Homo sapiens: one gene and its partners. The protein of the gene in region 1 interacts with the protein of each later gene in a pairwise test. Each region holds a gene or a part of one and is shown on either strand. Other genes may lie near its edges.

Evidence for each region. Proteins that work in one complex are often made in the same cells at the same time.
Region 2: the proteins of NUDCD2 (region 1) and PAFAH1B1 interact in binary tests that used the Homo sapiens proteins (3 or more experiments, as listed by UniProt).
Region 3: the proteins of NUDCD2 (region 1) and FBXO24 interact in binary tests that used the Homo sapiens proteins (3 or more experiments, as listed by UniProt).

What each region holds. Positions count from the first base shown.
Region 1 is NC_000005.10:163,457,089-163,464,788, forward strand, and holds the start of NUDCD2 (nudC domain-containing protein 2), read right to left. Parts: upstream 3,015-7,700; 5' UTR 2,963-3,014; coding exon 2,774-2,962; exon of another isoform or gene 1,946-2,773; coding exon of another isoform or gene 1,907-1,945; intron 553-1,906; exon of another isoform or gene 523-552; coding exon 474-522; exon of another isoform or gene 329-473; intron 1-328. Other genes in the region: HMMR (hyaluronan mediated motility receptor), read left to right, coding at 3,605-3,650, 6,768-6,866, 7,635-7,700. UniProt on the Homo sapiens protein: May regulate the LIS1/dynein pathway by stabilizing LIS1 with Hsp90 chaperone.
Region 2 is NC_000017.11:2,680,654-2,686,143, reverse strand, and holds the end of PAFAH1B1 (platelet-activating factor acetylhydrolase IB subunit beta), read right to left. Parts: intron 5,189-5,490; exon of another isoform or gene 4,910-5,188; intron 4,416-4,909; coding exon 4,342-4,415; 3' UTR 529-4,341; downstream 1-528. UniProt on the Homo sapiens protein: Regulatory subunit (beta subunit) of the cytosolic type I platelet-activating factor (PAF) acetylhydrolase (PAF-AH (I)), an enzyme that catalyzes the hydrolyze of the acetyl group at the sn-2 position of PAF and its analogs and participates in PAF inactivation.
Region 3 is NC_000007.14:100,582,399-100,589,355, forward strand, and holds the start of FBXO24 (F-box only protein 24), read left to right. Parts: upstream 1-3,929; 5' UTR 3,930-4,227; coding exon 4,228-4,266; intron 4,267-4,287; exon of another isoform or gene 4,288-4,297; coding exon of another isoform or gene 4,298-4,351; intron 4,352-4,573; exon of another isoform or gene 4,574-4,788; intron 4,789-6,957. Other genes in the region: LRCH4 (leucine-rich repeat and calponin homology domain-containing protein 4), read right to left, coding at 1-61, 3,483-3,702. UniProt on the Homo sapiens protein: Substrate-recognition component of the SCF (SKP1-CUL1-F-box protein)-type E3 ubiquitin ligase complex.

The DNA of each region.
Region 1 (7,700 bases):
AAAACACACACACACACACGCACAAATAAATTAGAGTTCTTCATCAAGTTGTTTTTTTTTTTTTTGAGACAGTATCACTCTCACCCAGGCTGGAGTGCAGCGGCTTGATCTCGGCTCACTGAAACCTCCGCCCCCCGGGTTCAAGTGATTCTCCTGCCTCAGCCTCCCGACTAGCTGGGAATACAGGCATGCGCCACCATGCCCGGCTAACTTTTGTATTTTTAGTATAAACGGGGTTTTGCCATGTTGGCCAGGGTGGTCTCAAGAAGTTCTTCATTAAATTTTATATTTCCAAAAACAACTAACTAATTTTTTCTCCCCCCACTAGGTAACTTTGACATACAACGGTTTTCAACACATTTCTATTGCTTTATCTTTCAAAGCTGCAAAGACAAAAAAGACCTAATACAAAAGAGGAAAAGATATCAAGACAAAATTATTTTAATTTGATGAATTATAGTAATTACCCTTACCCAAAGTCCATGTTCCCTCATCAGCTATTGTAGAATCAAAGAGTTTGCCCTGAAAAATAAACATATAAGGTGCTAAAAATACAGAATTTAATTTTTATAAAGTTTTCATGATTAAGATTTACCTACTTTCCTACCTAATCCACATCTTATACCACCACTTCACCATGACATTTATAGGTGCACAACCCTAAATTTTCTCCCAGCAGGTAAAATGGAAACTAGTTTACACTGCAAGGGATATTTACTATGGCAAAGAACACAGAGCTCTCTAAAGAAAGATCAGGGCTCCTTAATTTTTAGAAGATACAGTAATACTGACCACTGGCCAAATGTGAAATTAATATCTGAAATGCTTTAATTCTACCAATTTAAATTAACCACAAGAAGGGATCTCCTGCTAAAACTAAAAAATGTTGTCTTTTTTTTTTTTTTTTTTTTTTTTTTTGAGACAGAGTTTCGCTCTGTCGCCCAGGCTGCAGTGGCACGATCTGGCTCACTGCAACCTCCACCTCCAGGGTTCAAGCGATTCTCCTGCCTCAACCTCCCAAGTAGCTAGGACTACAGGCGCCCGCCACCACGCCCGGCTAATTTTTGTATTTTTAGTAGAGATGGGGTTTCCCCGTGTTAGCCAGGCTGGTCTCGAACTCCTGACCTTGTGATCCGCCCGCCTAGGCCTTCCAAAGTGCCAGGATTACAGGCATGAGCTACCGCACCCGGCAAAATGTTGTTTTTAAAGTAAACTTTTAAAAACGTTTTAATCTTTTTGTTGGGCAATCGGCATTAAAAAAACTTTACGTATTCCAGATTTGATAGATTAGTTGTGACTAACTGTTCACAAACTCATGTTTTTTAAAAAAATAAACAAAATATAAATTTAAAAGAGACTGCACCAGGCCCAGTAGCTCAGGCCTGTAATCCCAGGACTTTGGAGGCCAACGTGGATTGCTTGACCCCATGGGTTTGAGGCTGCTGTGAGCTACAATCTCACCCCTGCACCCCAGCATGGGAGACAGGGACCCTGTCTCAATAAATATATATTTTTTTTTAAAGAGAGAATGCCTAAACTCAAATCCATTTTAATTTGTTGCCAAATTTAAGTTATAGAAAGTGAAATTAAATGTCACTAGGAAAAGCCCACATTTTAAAATATGTCAAAATTAGTGAGAAAAAAATCCCACTGGTCTATACGTACATCAGAAATCCCAAATTCAGCAGCTACTGCTAAATTCCGAAAGTTACTGGATTTACTAATTTATAATCGTAATCTAAAACCATTGTTGAGGAAACTATGAATTGTACAATTCAGAAAAGTAACTGAGATCCAAGCTGACATAATGTCTTTCACACGAATCTTGAGGCACTCAAAGCACCTCCATATACTGTAATATATATAATAGCTAATAGCTAACATATAGTATGAACTTATTACATACCAGTGAATACTCCAAGCTCTTCATACACGTGAATACCATGTTAAGCTCAAAACAATCCCATGAGAAGGGTACTATAACTACCTTATCTTGTGGATAAGGAAGATATAGAGACACTGAACAATCTCTCGCCCAAGTTTACAAAACTAGGAAACAAGTAGTCTCCCTTCACCATATTACACTGCCATCAAACATCTTGGGCATCTAACCTGAGAACTAAATCTAATTTCAACCTGTTAGTTTAATTATACACTTAACAAAGAAAAAGCGGGTCCAGATCCAAAGAGCATTGGTGAAAAGAAATAAAAGGAGTACTACTTATTTTATGCACACACCTCTTCACCACCTGCTTGACCACTCCACAAACATGCAGGATTTTCAAGCTTTTAGATGAGAAAACTAATCACCTGACATCATCTCTAAATTCTCTGCCCGTTATTCTATCCCTATTTTCTTTGTTGTCCTTTCCTATATTTATCTATTTATGAATTACGCTTCCGTACAGGAGCTTAACCTCTCCACTGCAGGTACGTTATCTGTTGTCTTCCTGCCTGTCTTCAGTGCACGGAAGAAATATTTGTTCCTTTAGCAACCTAGTTAATCTGTTCCCAGCTGAAGCCCGTCAGAGAAGCAGAAGCAGCAGTCTTAGTTTGAAAACTAAACACGAAAATAGGCTCCTCAAATTTCCACAACTCAGCACCTGCCCTGAAGAGGCGGGGGCTCTGACCAGACCCAAACCTGGTCAGTGTTATCCTCTTTCTCTTTCTGCCAGCCACAGGAGCCGTCGGGACACCCAACAGTCGTTCAGGGAAACGGGGCTGGGGGCGTCTGGGAAGAGGAAACTGAACACAAGCCCCGAGCTGCCGCTACCTTGAGGATCTCGCGGCCGCCCACCGACAGCGCCACATGCCGGCTCTGGAGGCCGCACTGGATATCCTGGGCGCGCGTGCCTGGCGGCACCTGAACTTCAATGAACACCTCCTCCAAGGTCTGGTACCACTGGCCCCACGGGGTCCCGCACGGTACCACCCCACTCCGCTCCTCAAACGGGGCCGACATAATCCAGTCCCTCCCGGCCGCGGCCGCACCAGGCGGAGCCGAGCGCACGCGCGGAATCCCACGCTTAGGCTACGCCTCGGCCTCTCCGCTCGGGTCACTGCGCATGCGCAGGAACGCAAGCTAGCGCTTTGGTGTGCGTGTTCGTTTTTCCCTTTGAATGGCCGTTTACGGCACCGGCAGGCCCCGGATGAAAGAACTGAAATCCAGAAAAGTTCACATGCAACGAACAATGGGACAGAATTGGAACCAGTGAAGCCGGAACTCACTACACCGTCCCCTAAGTGACGCCAAAATGCACTTTCTAACGTCTCCGGAGGGAAGTGCGCTTGCGCAAATGCTAGGTTACACTTGAGTAACTCCGGGAATGACTGGGTGGGTGGGGCGGGGAACAGTAACGGTCTCCTATTGGATGGCAGCCTAAACTCGCAGGCCAGCTAATTGGACGCAATCAGAACCCAGCATTCTTTCTTCGTGTTCCTGTGCGGGATTGGTGTGCCCAGGGGTTTGGCTTTCCAATTGGCTAACGCCGGGGTGGGTGGGGAATGTGGGGAGATTTGAATTTGAAACCGGTAGGGAGTGATAATCCGCATTCAGTTGTCGAGGAGTGCCAGTCACCTTCAGTTTCTGGAGCTGGCCGTCAACATGTCCTTTCCTAAGGCGCCCTTGAAACGATTCAATGACCCTTCTGGTGCGTAAGGGGGAAAGAGCTGGGGGACGGGAGACGCCCTAACGCCCTTTGCCTCTTTCAGCTCCCTTCTTGGGAGGCAAGCAGGAGGCGATTTTAGGGTCGGGCTGGGGCTCATTCAGTTGATTGATTTTTCTCAAATATGCTCTAAGCATCTGTTACATGCCAAGCACTAATCAGGATGCTAAGGATACCGCAGTGAAACAGTCTCCGCCCCGTGGGGCTTACATTCAGGCGGGGAATACTGTCAATAAACAGCGGTAATGGAGAAACTACAGCAGGGCGAAGGGAATGGACCCGAGACGTTGGTAGCTACTTGATTTTCAAGTCCGAGAGGGCCTCACTGATAAGAACACTGGAGTATTACTTGTAGTCTGAACTTGTGCATTTCTTTTGTGTATTCCATTTGGGCATAAAAGAAGGAAGATTAGTAAAGGCAGTTTATGGGTGTAAAATTAGAGCAGCAGCACTTATTGAAAACATAAACAATGAAGTTATGGCTGATATTGACCACTTATACCTCAAGCACCGTACTAAGGCTTTACATCGATTATTAGTTATGTTAATTTCCCACCAACTCTAAGGGGTAATCCTATTATTATTTTATTGATAAAAAGACTGAGACTTAAATTTGCTCAGTGCTACATTACCAAAGTGACCGGACTGGAATATGAACCCAGCCCCCATCGTGTGCTCTTAACACCGCAATGCACAGCACAGTAACCAGGAAGCCTTAGCTGTGTTTGGTAGGCACTCATCATTTAAGATGCTGTATGCGGCCGGGCGCGGCGGCTCACGCCTGTAATCCCAGCACTTTGGGAGGCCGAGGCAGGTGGATCACGAGGTCAGGAGATCGAGACCACCGTGAAACCCCGTCTGTACTAAAAATACAAAAAAAATTAGCCAGGCGCGGTGGCGGGCGCCTGTAGTCCCAGCTGACTACAGGCTGAGGCAGGAGAATGGCGTGAACCCGGGAGGCGGAGCTTGCGATGAGCCGAGATCGCGCCACTGCACTCCAGCCTGGGCGACAGAGCAAGACTCTGTCTTACAGAAAAAAAAAAAATGCTGTATGCTGGGACTGTGCTACTAGATCTTGTTTATTCCTTCCAAAAGCCAAGTGAGGAAGGTACTGATATTGACCTCATTTTACAGATGAGAAAACAGAGGTTTTGTATCTTGCACAATCAGTAAGTGGTAGAGCTAAATATTAAAGCTCATGATTTATTCACTATCATACACTATTTCGTGGTTACTCATTACGTCTCTAAGTTTTGTCAGCCAACGTGTGAATGAAAATACAACTACTCACAAAGGAAGGCCAAATGAGCAAGTGAATCAGCACAAACTTATTTTCTTAGTTAAAAGACTCAAGGACCATATGATTTCCCGAGTAATCAAAGGACCTACTCTTAAGTTTTGTCAGCAGTGTGGCTTTAAGGTTTTTTTGGTTTTTTTGTTGTTTGCATTATAGTAGGTTAAACTGGCTTTATCAAAGATATAGTATTTCAGGCTCACAGTTACAGAAATAATACTAATTATTAATTTGATGCTTAATGTGTATGAGGCACTGTGGTGATTTTTCATATTCCAGTACTCCAGCCTGGGTGACAGTGCGAGACTCTGTTTCAAAAAAAAAAAAGCAAAAAAACCCCCAAAATTTATATTTCAACCTAAGATGTATTTTTATATCTCTACACATACATACGAAAGAAAAGTTTCACAAAACAATGCCTAACTTTGCAGCATATGAGTCATGCTTTTTCTATTGTTTTTACTTTTTAAAAAATGCTAATCAAGATCTACTCATGGGGCTGGGCCTGGTGGTTCACACGTGTAATCCTAGCACTTTGGGAGGCCGAGGCAGAGAGATCAGCTGAGGTCAGGAGTTCAAGACCAGCCTGGCCAACATGGTGAAACCCTGTCTCTAGTAAAAATACAAAAAACTAGCTGGGCGTGGTGGTGGGAGCCTGTAATCCCAGCTACTCGGGAGGCTGAGGCAGGAGAATCGCTTGAACCCAGGAGGCAAAGGTTTCAGTGAGCCAAGATGGCGCCACTACACTCCAGCCTAGACAACAGAGCAAGACTCCGTCTCAAAAAAAAAAAAAAAAAAAAAAAAATCATGAGTTCCTGTCTACTGTTTGACAAACATTTAGGGGACAGCAGTAGTTGCCTGGGAATGGTCCAAGCTCCTTGCTCTTCCTATTTATTTGCATGAGACTCTAGACTGAAGTAAATAGCTTTTCAGAGAATAGTATTAATCTATTTGTTCCCAATCAGCTAAAGCTTTAGGCTAGTAGTATTTTAATTACTTTAAGTCCTAAAGGCCCCATCTCAGGTCTGCTATGTGTATTTACTCAGAAATGCCTTCAAATCTGGGACTTTAGTTAAGTGAAATTATGCAGTATAAACTTCTGGAACATACAAATATAGTCTAGTACAATTTGTACTTTGTGTAACATTGGCTTTTTGAATTTCCTAAGCCTCACATTCTTTGTCTATAAATTATCACACAGGATTCTTGTGAGGATTAAATAAAATAACATCTGTGAAATGCTTAGCATAATGCCTGGCATTTAGTAAGTGCTCAAAAAATTCTAGTTGCTCTAGTGTGGTTGCTTTTCTTCCATGTGTTTGAATTGCAGTTGACATCTTTAATAGGTCTGATGTATTGATATTAGCCAGAGATGGATTATCACTATAAATTTTTATTCTAGGCTAAACATTGAGGGATAGACAATTTTAATTACTTTATTTCTAGAAACTGATAGTAGTTATCTTTGTGACTCTCTTCGAGTAGAGTTGACACCAAGTATTTTATTTGCTATATTCAATCCTTAGTAAGAAAGCCATATATTGCCTGTAATATATGATGTTCATCTCAAAACTGTCGTTTGCTCAGTTGCCTGTGTTCCTTTGACCCGGTTGATATAAAGGGCAAGATGATATTGTTCTTCATAGAGAGGCCTTCTTTGTAATATCAAATGGATGCAATTTTTTACATTTAAAAAAAGCAGTTTGTTAATGACATTTTTACATTTATATTCACTTTATTATGACATGTTTTAACTTAAGATCATAAGTAACATTAGATAATATATTAATGTTTTCTATTTCCTCTAGGTTGTGCACCATCTCCAGGTGCTTATGATGTTAAAACTTTAGAAGTATTGAAAGGACCAGTATCCTTTCAGAAATCACAAAGATTTAAACAACAAAAAGGTAATATAGATCACCAAAGAACAATGGTTATGTGATCTTATAAGTTTTAAAGTTATGAATAACAATATTTAAAGATGTTATAGCATTTTTTAAAATGTGAAGCTAGAACTATATTTAAATTTTATTTGATGGATTTATGAAAGGGTCAAGTACAGAATAATGCTGTCATCATTACATTGTTATATAACCAGGAAAATTAAGCAAGATACTTATATTGATATGTAGCTTCCCTTTTGGTAATTACCTTGACTTGTCAGGGAATATTAGGAAAATCAGAAAGGTGTTAGATGTGTAAAAAAATTGTATGAGTAATTATTTGAAAATGTACAACTAAGGAAAGAATATATTGTTTCATCAAAAGTTGTAATTAGAAATTTGGGGCCGGGCAAGGTGGCTCGTGCTCGTAATCCTGGCACTCTGTGAGGCCAAGGTGGGTGGATCACATGAGTTCAGGATTTCGAGACAAGCCTGGCCAACATGGTGAAACCCCATCTCTACTAAAAATACAGAAATTAGCCAGGTGTGGTGGGGTGCGCCTGTGGTTCCAGCTACTAGGGAGGAAAGTGGGAGAGTTGCTTGAAACTGGGAGGCAGAGGTTGCAGTGGGCTGAGATGACACCACTGCAGTCCAGGCTGGGTGACAGTGAGACTGTCTCAAAAAACAAAAACAAACAAAAAGAGAAAGACAAAAAAATTTGGAAATTGTGTTTTGTGTGTAGTTAAAACACATTGACATCAACCATGATCTGTACAATTCATTTTTCCGCAGAATCTAAACAAAATCTTAATGTTGACAAAGATACTACCTTGCCTGCTTCAGCTAGAAAAGTTAAGT
Region 2 (5,490 bases), on another chromosome or scaffold:
CCCCATCTTTTTTTTTTCCTTTTTGTGGAGAACGGGGTCTCGCTATATTGCCCAGGGAGGTCCCGAACTCCTGGGCTCAAGCTATCCTCCCGTCTCTGCCTCCCCAAGAGCTGGGATTACAGGCGTGAGCCACCGCGCCCGGCAGGGCCCCTTATCTCTAGACTCTGTCCCCAAGAGTCTAGTCTTGGGCCTGTAACCAGCCATCCTGGCTTTGGCTCTCTGGCCACAGCGATAGCCACAGTCAGAACGGGCTGCTGGGAGGGTTGGGGAGAGCGGGCCTGTGCCGCAGACGCATGCCATGGCAAGGCTCAGGCTGAGGCACTCCCTCCTCCACCCGGGGGAAGGGGGACAGCAAAGCCAGTTCGGGTGCTGCCCTGAAGGAAAGCAGCTCATGAGGCCTTACTGCCCTGACACCGATTCGTGTCACTCTTTGTGACTGGAGCTACACACAGCCCCACTTTCTATCAGCATTTCCCCTGTGCAAAGGAAGACAAAAAAAAAAAAAAAAAAAAAAAAAAAAATCACATCTAGTTTTATAGGCATTTAATAGTTTACCAGTTGGTACAATAAGATTTTTTAATATGCAGAAAACATGAATAAATTTTGTTTTACACAGTCTGAGAGCAACAAATCTTACTGTAAAACACGAGAGCAATATTATATACATTCCTTTACTGATTTTTTAAAATTGTGTCAATATCTTCAGTGAACTCTTAACAATCTGGGGAACTGTTTTCCTCAATTACCACTTCAGCAACGTTCATACGAAATCAAGGCTTGCCTTCATGTCAGTGTCAGGATCAACTTTAACTCGAAGAGTTTGTGTTTGTCTCTAACATCTTCAGAGTGAGCTTTAGGGATGCCTGAAGGATGGACAGTACAAGCAAGCAGCTACTTCCATGATACAGTGGGAAGATAAAAAGGCCCATTCAGTCCAGCCGTGACCTGTAAATCCAGCTTGCCCTCCCCCCACCCCACTGGAAAAAAAATCCAAAACCTTTTTCCACCAGTTTTTTACATGTCGCTTCTCTACCAGGAGATTCTTTGCGTCATCTAGATGAACACACTGGACTTATATACAGCTGGACATGAAAGTAACCAATTTAAGTGCCTTTTCCTTCAACAATTTTAACTTCAGTTGCTTAAGGATGATCGAGCCACCGATGTCAACAAAATATCCTTTACCTTTAAATAGTTTTTCTTTAATTAAGTTTAAAGAAAACCTATTTAACGAGTGATATTACCGGGAAAGTTCACACAGAAACAGAAAGAGGCGAACGGGAGAGCAGGGCACTGGCAGCGGGGAGGCGGGGCTTGGTAAATCTAAAGCCAAAGCTTCCAAAGACTACGGCGAACGCTCCCCAGCCCGGGACGACTTGCTAACACTAGTGATTTTGAGAGTAGTGCTCTGGGCACACCATTGGTCACACCACACACAGACGAACCAGGACGGTCTTAGTCTCCTAAAGTGCAAGATGCCGTGACAACAGGCAACTAGGCTCCACGCGGTGTCTAAACCAGTCTCCATGGCATGCACTCTCAAGAGCGCAGCTAGGATTTCTTGGGCACGTTACAGATATATATTTGGGTGGCACTGGAATGTCTGTTTTCACACACACACACAGTCAATAATCATCTGAGGATGCAATTCTACCAGCTCTTTATTTCTTAAGTGGCCAATTTGATTGAGAAAGTGACAAAGCAGCAGTGAACCTCTAAACCAATTAATAAAAGTCCTCTACTTACAATCCAAACCAGTAACCTCATCATTGTCCTTATCCCAGGCAAGGCACAGGGTTAGACAGCAGACAGAGAAAACAGAGAACACAGTCAGAAAGGGCATCAACAGGACAGTGTCAGACAGCAGTGCAGGAAATTTTGCAAATCTGATTCCAGGTTGTAGACGGACTGCTCTCCCCCACCCCTTCGTTATTAAACAGGGCTCATTACATGTGGACCCAGTTGTGGGCCATCCCTGAGATTCAATGTTCGCTGCTTCTCACATGGAGGATGTCTGGTAACTCAACTCAGCAGCAGGCTGTGGCAATCTCCCAAGTAAGGATAACTTTGTTTACAGAGTAATCGTTTCCTCCTCCTTTGTCAACGCAAGTCGCTGTGTGCTGCAGGGGAAGACACGCTTGCTTCCTCCTGCATCGGTACCATTCTCCTTTATTGTTCAATATCTATGAGTGATTTCTAGATGTTGTGGCTTACCCTTAAACAATTCATGCTAAAAATGAATTAAAATACAAGACATTTATACATGTACAAACAAATGTTAAGATGCACCATTTCTATGTATTTATATTTCTCAAAATAGGACAGAAAATAGCAGCAAACAAGAACAAAGATATTTTCCATAGTTTTTGTAGAAAAATCCAGTCAGAAGAGCTAAGGGAAAAAGACTTTTCAATGTAAGCAGGGTTGTGAGGCAATATTGTCCTGAAAATTCACCTACTGTATGTATTTAAGGAATTAGCTTAAGATGTAATTTTTGTCCTCAAAAATAGCCATTAGTTCTCAAAACTTTCCCTTCCAGAGACATCTCTCAGGAATCTAAAAACAAACAAGCAAACAAACAAAAAGACACAAGCTAGACATAAAGCTGCTTCTAGTTAATATACGGCCTAGTCTCTGTGTGTATCTACAGGACGCTAACTCTCACCCTTTGTCTTTTGCAGGAACCAATTTTCCATTAAATACTAAAGGGGACATTTAAAAAATCACATAGTACACAAATGAATAAAACGCAGTTCAGAATTTTATCTTTGTTAAACTGTCACTGTTATCTCATTGTTCTGTTAACTTTTCAAATAACTCTCTTGGAAACAAAAAAAACCTGTTGGTTAGCTAAGCAATGGAATTCTTTATTAATAACTGACAATGGAATAGTGCTCCAAAAGTCATGGCTAAAAATTCTCTTAAACCTACCTGTAACTTTGGGTCAAAATATACAACATATCCGGGTTGTGTAAAATGTCGAGCGGCTAAATTAGAGGGGGACATAACGGAAGTGATTTTCCTTCGGCTGGAAAAAAATCCCCAGAGTCAGACCTAGTTTTCAGAAGCATTAAGATCAAAAAGGGTTTGTTCTAAAGCATGGCATTCCACAGCAACATTTATTCTACTTGTCCGTTTTAGCACTTTTTCAAAAACCCAGGACTAAGGACATGGAGGTTGATGTGTATGATACACACATACAGACTTATCCACTTACAGATAGGCCCATATACTTACAAACATTTACATATAAACAAAAGGTGAAAACAGTACATTTTTATGCACGCTCCATTAAACCCTGTCATTTTTTTAAAACTTGTAAGTGAAACACAGTTTAAATCAATATCAGATTCATGTTGAAAAACAAACTGCTGTATTCCTCCCACTCCTTTCAAATGGGCACACAGAACCTTCTCAGTATTTCTGTCATTATGTAATGCACATTGCACATCCCTAAAAAACACCAAAAACGAATAGTGATTTGTACCATGACACACTCAATGGGGAGATTAAATTCTACTTGGAAGTCACATCACTACACAGTCTAATAGTATGGAGAATACAACTAGAAGTATGTCCAGTGTGGAAAATAGAAGCTTAGAGTATGACAGTATTTTTTGACCTGTTTACAAAGCATTAAGACCAAAATGAAATAAATGAGTTGCTATTAGCTGCTGAGATTTTTCTTGAGATTTACAGTCATTTTCTTACATAAATATACCACTAGCCTCTGCGTGATAGGCTGCCAAAACAAATATATCCTACTGATTTGGCAAATGTGTCATGACAAAAATTCCAATGTATAATCCCCATTCATTACATAGATGGTTCAGAAGATTCTGAATTGTAGCCTTATCATCTAAAATCCTTACAGAAGATTTATTAAGCACACTTAAGTGATGTTACATAGATACACATTTCAGAAAAAGCCCTAATAACCACCACTTTTCCCCAAATGAGGCCATCAAGTCAGGCACCAACAGATAGCAGAAAGAAAAACAGGAATTAATAATCCAACATAAAATGACACTGTCAACTATTCAGTTTAGTGCCCTAGTTCAATTGATTCAACTTCTGCCTTCTTAGGCCTGGTGTGACCAATGCCAGCCCAGGTTTTTAAACCCTATGGTACTTCTAGACAACGTATGTAAATTTACAGTATACAATTTGGATTCACCATGCATGAATACTTTGTGTGTAACATTTAATAAGCTCAATCTACATCCAGAATAATTTACATGAAAGGACAATATTTATTTAAACAGAGCTCAATGGGGTAACCATGGTATCATCAGAGTGCATCCAGAGGAAAAGAGGGAGGAGGGGCCGAAGGAGACACAATCAACGGCACTCCCACACTTTTACTGTTTGATCTACGCTGCCAGTGACGACATAGGGTGCCGTCTTGTGGAAATCTGAAAGAAAAAGAAATGGTTTATTTAAAACTCACACGTAAGCCTGGACAACAAACATAGTGAGACCCCCTCTCTACAAAATACAAAATTAAAAAAAAAATTAGCCGGGCATGGTAGTGTGTGCCTGTAGTCCCAGCTACTCGGGAGACTGATGCAGAACTGTTTGAGCTGGGAAGTCGAGGCTGCAGCGAGCCATGACTGCACCACTGCACTCCAGCCTGGGTGACAGAGCAAGACCCTGCCCGGTCCCAACCCTCCATCACACTGAGCCAGATACAATTTTTAATGAGCCACAAAATTCTAAGAAAGTCCAAATGCCAGTAGTTTTCGTGTTTCTCTAATATACCATAACCCAAGAAGGTATCTAGTTTGCCAATTCAGTTAGGGAAGTTGAGACTCAATGATCAAATCCTGTATTAACATCTCAATAAAAACGCCTGTTCCTCTTTGGCCCATCCCAAATGGGGCTCAAATCCTTTTTCTTCTTTTTTCAAAGGCAGGGTCTCACTATGTTGCCCAGGCTGGAGTGCAGTGGCTGTTCAAAGGTGCGATCCCACTACTGATCAGCAAGGGAGTTTTGACCTGCTCTGTTTCTGACCTGGGCCAGGTCACCCCTCCTTAGGCAACCTGGGAGTCTCCTGTTCCCAGGAGGTCACCATATTGATGCTGCACTTAGTGCAAACATCCCATCAGCACAGCACACTGTAACCCAGAACTCCTGGGCTCAAGCAATCCTCCAGCCTCAGCCTCCTGAGTAGCTGGGACTAAGGCACAGCAGGGCTCAAATCTAACAATACACAGTCTCGCCATATCCATTTACTGAACACGATGTTCCAGGCATGGCATAAATGCTCCGTATTTGTGCCTAATCCTTGAACCAATCCTGTGAGGCAGGTATTAGCCCACCTTACGCAGGCTTTGGTCCATTATACTTTAGTGCATTTATTATACTTGACTGTATTCACTCTCTTAAATTCCAGATTCAAGTCCAGATGATAGTGAGGATGTTTACTCAAATCAAATACAATTTTCTGAGTTTCTAGTATCTGATAGTATACACCTGCCAGTGGGAAAG
Region 3 (6,957 bases), on another chromosome or scaffold:
TCCAGGGACACCAGCTGGCACGCCGCCTCGGGCACCTCGGGAAACCGGTTCCGGGACAGGTCTGGGGAAAAGGAGGTGTCGGGGAGAGTTGCGGAAAGGCCCAGCCCGGACAGGACCTTCAGTCCCCCCAGAGCCGGCTGCCCACTCCCTCACCTCCACACCTAAAGATTCAAGGCCATCAATGTGGCCTCCCAGGAGAGATAACAAAGCCTTCTGCCAACGGGAGCACATTCCAGGCGTGACCAGAATGGCACAGGGAAGGCAAAGGCCTTAGCGTCACTGGGCTAGAGAAGCCTCAGACTTGGGGGTTGGGGAATGTCAATGGAGGGCTATCCTGGAGAGCAGCTGGAATCTCTAACTCCTGTGGTTCCTGTTCAGAGATGCCAGGTGAGGCGGAGGACCGAAGGTGAGAGGAGGGGTCAGTGCTCATGGGAAAACAGTAAGGCGAGGGGCTGGGGGGCTCCCGGAGGGAAGATGGGAAACCCCTGGGGCAAACCACAGGGAGTGCCCATCCCTCCTCGGGGCCCTTCTTCCCTACTCCAGTGTGTTTTCAACACGGGAAAAACCACAGGTCACTCTATCTTGGTTCTAGAGATAAAGTCCCCGACACCGGACGAGTTTTTCGCCAGCCCCAAGGACCAGCAAGCCAGGTCCAAAGAATCATAAAGTTACTGATTCCCAAGGGCTGGGAGGGAAGGGCAAGAAGACCTGGTTGGAGATGGGAGCTGGAGTTCCCAGGTCCCTCCCATCTGGGCTTCTCTGGCCCAGGGCAGGCATCCTTCCTACCCTCTGCTAGCCCTAGCAGCCCGGCTCTGCTTCCTCTCTTACTGACACAGACTTCAAGAGATCAGCAACTGTGTGAGCATCTCAGGCACGGCGAGGGTGGAGAGTGTGGGAGGGCCTGGGGTCTACAATCGCCCTCTTATCTGGAGCACTGCCTTGCTATGCGGAGGCTGGCAGCCTTGGGATTCCCTGTAGCACGGACCCACTAACGGCTTAGACCTGGAGAAGCCTGCCTTTCTGTTTCCTCGGCCCAGCCTGTCCTGGGAGGGGCCCAGGGCCCGCGAGGCGGAGTCCCAGGCCACAGACCTGGTGAGCTTCTCCAAGGGCCCTTCTCAGGGAAGGGCAGGCCAGCAAAAGCAAGCAGAGGAGAGAAGCCGGGTATATCCCCCAAGGAAATGAGTCTTGTGACAGGAAATGAAGTAGAAACAATCTGTCAGGTTCTGGCTCTGGTAGGCCCCGTGTTTACCAGGGTGGATGACAGCCTGATGCCCCGGGACCCCTTTCTCTTCCTCTCTGCCCAGCCCTGGTGCACAGACAGAAGCCCTGGCCTCAGAGATGACCGTTCTGGAGAGGGTGGGGGGATGGCATTTGCCCCTCCCAGCCTCGCCTCCACCTGCCCGCTTTCTCTGCAAATGTGTTTGTGTGTGTGCATGTGGACGAAGGGGGTGGAGACCGAGTTCTCAGAGTTCTGATGGGGTAGGCGGTGGCGGGGACAAAAGCTAGGAGCGGAAGGGAGCTCAGGCAGGAGGCAGGGCACTGGGGGCACAGGATGTGGTCTGGGAGAGAATGAGCTGCACTTCTCCTTTGCAAGATGGCCCCTCCCCGCCACCTCAGGATTCTTCCTACTATCACCCCAGGGAGCCTAGTCCAAGGGAGATCAGGGACCCAAGACTAGGCGACACGCAGCGAAGACACTCAGAAAGAGATGGGAGACGGGAGGGGAAGGCTCAAGGCAGTCCGGGCAGCAAGGCACTGATGCTTTTCGTCTGCTTGGAGGGCGAGGAGAGATGGAGGGCAGGGTATGGGCAACTGTATGTTTTTGTCACTTCCCCTTTCTGTCCCTGCTTGCGGAGAGGGGACAGAGGAGAGAATTCTGGACAAGAGGGACCCCACTTGGCCTAGAACCTGGGCCCTGTGTAGAGAGTGGGGCAGAGGAGGGTTCTTGGGAAGCTGGGATTTCCGACCCCCCCCCAAGCTCACAGGAGCACGGCTGCACCCTGAGCCGGAATGCTGGGGGAGGAGGGGGCCGGGGGCGGGAGCTGGGAGGGGCCGGGGAGCTCCGGGTAGTTTTCCCCAAGAGTCCACACAGGGAGAGACAGCCTAAGGAAGTAAAGAATAACATTTGGTCTTTGTCAAAAAACAACCAAGGGGGAGGGGAAGGGAACAGACAGTGAGTGTCACACAGCTGCTGAGGTCAATCTGGAGTGTGGGGTTAGGTGGGGGTGGGAGGGAACAGGGCTGTAAGGGGCAGGAATGGCTCCTGGAGCTCACTCATTCCCCATCTCAAGTGTTGCAGAGCAGGCGAGATCAGTGGGGAGGTTTCGACTGGTTCTCCCCAGAAGAGGGAAGAGGATGTGTGCCAGTGCCGGCCTGAGTGTTCCCAGGTGAGCAGGCACCTGCTTAGGGAGAAGTAAGCACTATCCTCCAGCTCTGGTCCCCCACCGTGCAGATGAGAGGAGGAAGAGGCCTGGGCTGGGGTGAGGCTTCGGGAATGCAGTCCTCCTCCCTGATCCTGATCCCCACCCCCAGCTGCCGGCCCAAGGTCATAGGCTGCCTCCTGAGTAGCTGAGGCTTGACTCACCTGTCACAGTTAAGTCCCCCACCCCCTACCATCCACAGACACCAGGGTGGAGGGTGCATGGTTGGACAGATCCTGCGGGTGGAGGCGTGGAAGGACAGTCTCTAGCTGGCCAGCACTCCCAGCTAGGAGATAAGATTTCCTTCCCTCCAGCAACGGCCTCAAGTCCCTCCCCCGGGGGAAAGCAGAAACTGAAATGGGAATTCTAAGATCCCTATGAGGTCACAGGCTCCACAGTGACCTCACAGGCTTAGGAAGGAGGAGGAGGAATCTCAGATAAGCCGGTTGGGGATAATAGGCGGAAGAGCTCAGGGAGAAAAGAGTGAGGGGAGGTAGAGATTTGTTTCTTTCCCATAGGCTGGAGAGCTGCGTGGACAGTGGAGAGGGCCAGGACCTTAGGGGGCGGGGTTGCGGCACAGAAAGCAGAAACCTCGGGCTTAGGGGCCAGTCACTGGGAAGGGGGTGCCCGGGGCTGCTCGGATCTCGGTGGGACGGGGGTTAAGAGGTGTAGATGAAGAGGGAGAGAAAGCAGTTATTAGAGGAGCTCGTGGGGACTGCTTCATAGACCGATTGGAGCTGAGGTTAAGAGATCATGTAAATAAGCCAACCAGGTGAGGGGCGGGACCATCCTACAGGTGCGCAGATATGCAAATAAAGAGAAAGGAGGAATCTCTCCCAACGCTCGGAGGCGCAGGGCGTTCTGTGCAAACGAGAAGCACGTTCATTGTCTAGGGGGTTCTCAAAGATGGGAGAGGATGGCTGCAGGTTTAGGGCAATCAGGAGGGGCAGCAACCCTGGCCGCCAGGTGAAGGGGCGGGCCCGACTCCCGGGCCGGGCGGGGCCCGGGGTGGGGCTATGCAAATGAGGGACCCGGTTGGGCCCGGGGCCCGGCTGCACTCACCAGCCTGGGTGATGTCTGACAGGTCGTAGCTACGGGCCGCGCCCCGGGGGAAGTGCTTCAAGCGCCGGTTAGACAGGTTCAGGGTCCCGGTGGCCACGGCCTCCTCTAGGGCCCGCTCTGCACTGCGTCTCCCCGGCAGACCTGGAGACCCGGGCACGGAGGTCGTGGCTGCCGCCTCCTCACCCCCGGCGGCGAGTGGAGCCGCTACGGCCGCCGCCATCCGCTCCCGGCGGCTCCCGCTGCCTGACTGACGGGACCGGCCGTCCCTCCTTCCCCCACCCCCTCCTTGGAGCCGCCGTAGTTGCCTCAAGGGGGAGGGAGCGGTGTCCGGGACCGGACGGACCAATCGTGGCCCCGAGACGCGTCAGAAGCGGCCAATCAGAACCCGTCAGTGGGGGTGGAGCTCCGGCGCCGGAGTCTGACGAGAGAAGGGAGGGGAACAAGGATAGAGCGCTCGCCAACGGCCGACGCTCCAGGCCGTCCCGCCCAGCGCAGCTGCACCCAATCACAATGCTCAGATCGGGAGGTGGAGCCAATCAGGTCCAACCAAGAGGAGGGGACACCGGCACTCCACTAGCAGGAAAACGGGCCGAGGGACCGCAAGCAGGGGGTGCCTAGTCCTCGTCCCCCAAAGACCAATCGTAAGCCAGATACAGGCGAGTGACTGTCAAGAAGGCCAATTAGAGCCTCCGAAGGGAATCTGGACCTGCCTCTTCTCTGAGGGACGGCTCTACCTACCAATAGCATGGGCGAGAAGGCGGTCCCTTTGCTAAGGAGGAGGCGGGTGAGCTAGAACTTTAAGACTGAGGTTAAGAATGAACGCGGAGCCCCTGGCCGGCCGGGAACGCAGTTCGCCGCTGCAGTGGCGAGTGCGAGCTGGACGTGTTAGGGGGCTAGCCGGCGTCCAGGGCTTGAGGGGATTCGGGCGACTGCTTGAGGCCAGTGCACTGGCGGTTGTCGCAGCTGAAGGGGCAGCGGGGGGACCTCCGACTGTGAAGCCTCTGGCAGGGGTCTCGGGACCCCCGGGCTGGGGGCGGGCGGGGGGCTTCCCAGAGCCTGGAGATGCCCAGCTCGAGGAGGGAGGGTGTAGGTGCAGCGTTGCACGGTCTGCCGTCTCACCCGAGGAGCTCCCCTGGACAGGAATGGAGAGGGGACCAGACCACGGGGTTTTAGAGGCTTAGAAAGGATCTCACCGCCTAGAACACGCCCTTGGTGCTACGAATGCAGAAACTGAGGCAGAGGGAAGTTGATGCGTTAGCAAGAGCGAACAGCAAGTTCCTGACAGCTGGCTTGCTCTAGAAACCAGGTCTCTGGATCCTCCACGCACAGCCCTTTCCCGCTCCCTCAGTTTTCACAGTGGATGTTTTCACTCCCTTCCTCTCTTCCTCCCTCCCTCCCTCTCCCTTCCGTTCCCTTCCTCTTTTTATTTTTTTATTTTTTGAGATGGAGTCTCGCTCAGTCGCCCAGGCTGGAGTGCAGTGGCGCGATCTCGGCTCACAGCAACCTCCACTGTCCGGGTTCAAGCAATTCTCCTGCCTCAGCCTCCCGAGTAGCTGGGACTACAGGCGCCCGCCACCACACCCGGCTAATTTTTTGTATTTTAGTAGAGACGGGGTTTCACCGTGTTGCCCAGGCTGGTCGCAAACTCAGGAGCTCAGGCAATATGCCCTCCTCGGCCTCCCAAAGTGCTGGCATTACAGGCGTGAGCCACCGCGCCCGGCCTTTTTTTTTTTTTTTTTAAGAAGGTCTGATTCTGTCGCCCAGGCTGGAGTGCAGTGGTGCAGTCATGGCTCACTGCAGCCTTGAATGCCTGGGCTCAAGTGATCCTCCTGCCTCAGCCTCCCAAGTAGCTGGGACCACGGGCGGCACCACTGCACCTGGCTAATTTATTTTCAATTTTTGTAGAGATGGGGTTTTGCTATGTTGCCCAGGCTGGTCTCAAACTTTTGACCTCAAGCGATCCTGCCTCTGCCTCCCAAAGTACTGGGATCACAGGCGTGAGCCACCGCACCCGGCCCACAGTGGACTTTTTCTTTCTTTTGAGACAGAGTCGCTCTGTTGCCCAGGCTGGAGTGCAGTGGCTTGATCGCAGCTCACTGCAGCCTCAACCTCCCACCTCAGCCTCCCGAGTAACTGGGACTACAAGCACGCACCACCATGCCAGCTAATTGTATTTTTTGTAGAGACAGGGTCCTACTATGTTGCCCAGGCTGATCTCAAACTCCTGGGCTCAAGCAATGCTCCCACCTCGGCCTCCCGAAGTGCTGGGATTATAAGCGTGAGCCACAAAGCCTGGCCCACAGTGGACTTTTTCTATTCACAACCTCTCGTTTGCCTCCTGGGGTGAAATGGAGTGGATAAAGGGGACCCAAATGCAAGAGGAATGGAAAATACCTTTCTGTCTACTTGGAGATCTTCCTTTCTAAGTGGCATGAGTCCCTAATGCAGTCCCCTCCCTATGTGGTAGGTTGCCCAGAAATAAGTCACTGAAGTTGCTTTCTCCTTAGTTCACATCTCAGAGGTTGATATTCCTGAGTAGTTGCTGAAGAATTAAAATTCCATCTCAGGCATCCCAGCCTAGCCATGGCTAGGCACCATACATAAGGGAATTTGGGTGGTCAGTCTGGTGCAGTCAATGAACGGATCTGTGACACTGTGTGGTGAGGGCTGGTGGTCTGGCAGGATGGGACTCCTTTGAGCCCCTGCAAGAGCCAGCCACTCCTTGGATTTATTGGTGTAGATCTGGCCTGAGTGGGACAGACACAACCCTGACCCCTGCTGTTTCTCCTGATAAATGTCACCCCACATAAGACAAAGCTAATATCAGAGACCCTGGGAGAAATCCTAAGCTTTCAGAGGAAATCCATCCCTTTCTCCCACCTTAATAGGTTGTCCTTTATACATGCAATGATGTTACTGTCCCTCAGGAAAGCAAAAGCAGTCTTCTTTTTTGTTTGTTTTTTTTGAAACTGGGTATCATTCTCGCCCGGGCTGGAGTGCAGTGGCACGATCATAGCTCACTGCTGCCTCAAACTGGGCTCAAGCAATCCTCCTGCCTCAGCCTCCTGTGTAGCTGGGACTACAGGGGTGCATCACCACGCCTGGGTAATTTTTAAGTTTTTTTTTTTTTTTAATAGACGCAGGGTCTATGTTGACCAGGCTGGTCTTGAAACCCATGGCCTCAAGCCATCCTTGCACCATGGCCACCCAAAAGTGCTGGGATTTCGGGCGTTAGCCACCGGCACCAGGCTGCAGTCTCCTTTTGGATGTGTTTTTTCACAAGTCTAAAGAGTTTGCTGAATCATTTGTGAGCTAAACGATTATTAGCACAGTCACCTCTCCATCTCACCTGTCAAACTGAGTTTATAGTTTTTTGAGTCTATACTCTTGAGCTACCAATCCCTAGAGGCCTTGGCCTGCTGAAATGTGAGGAATTCACTAGTGTTTCTCTACAGAGTTAGTGCTAAAAGGGCCT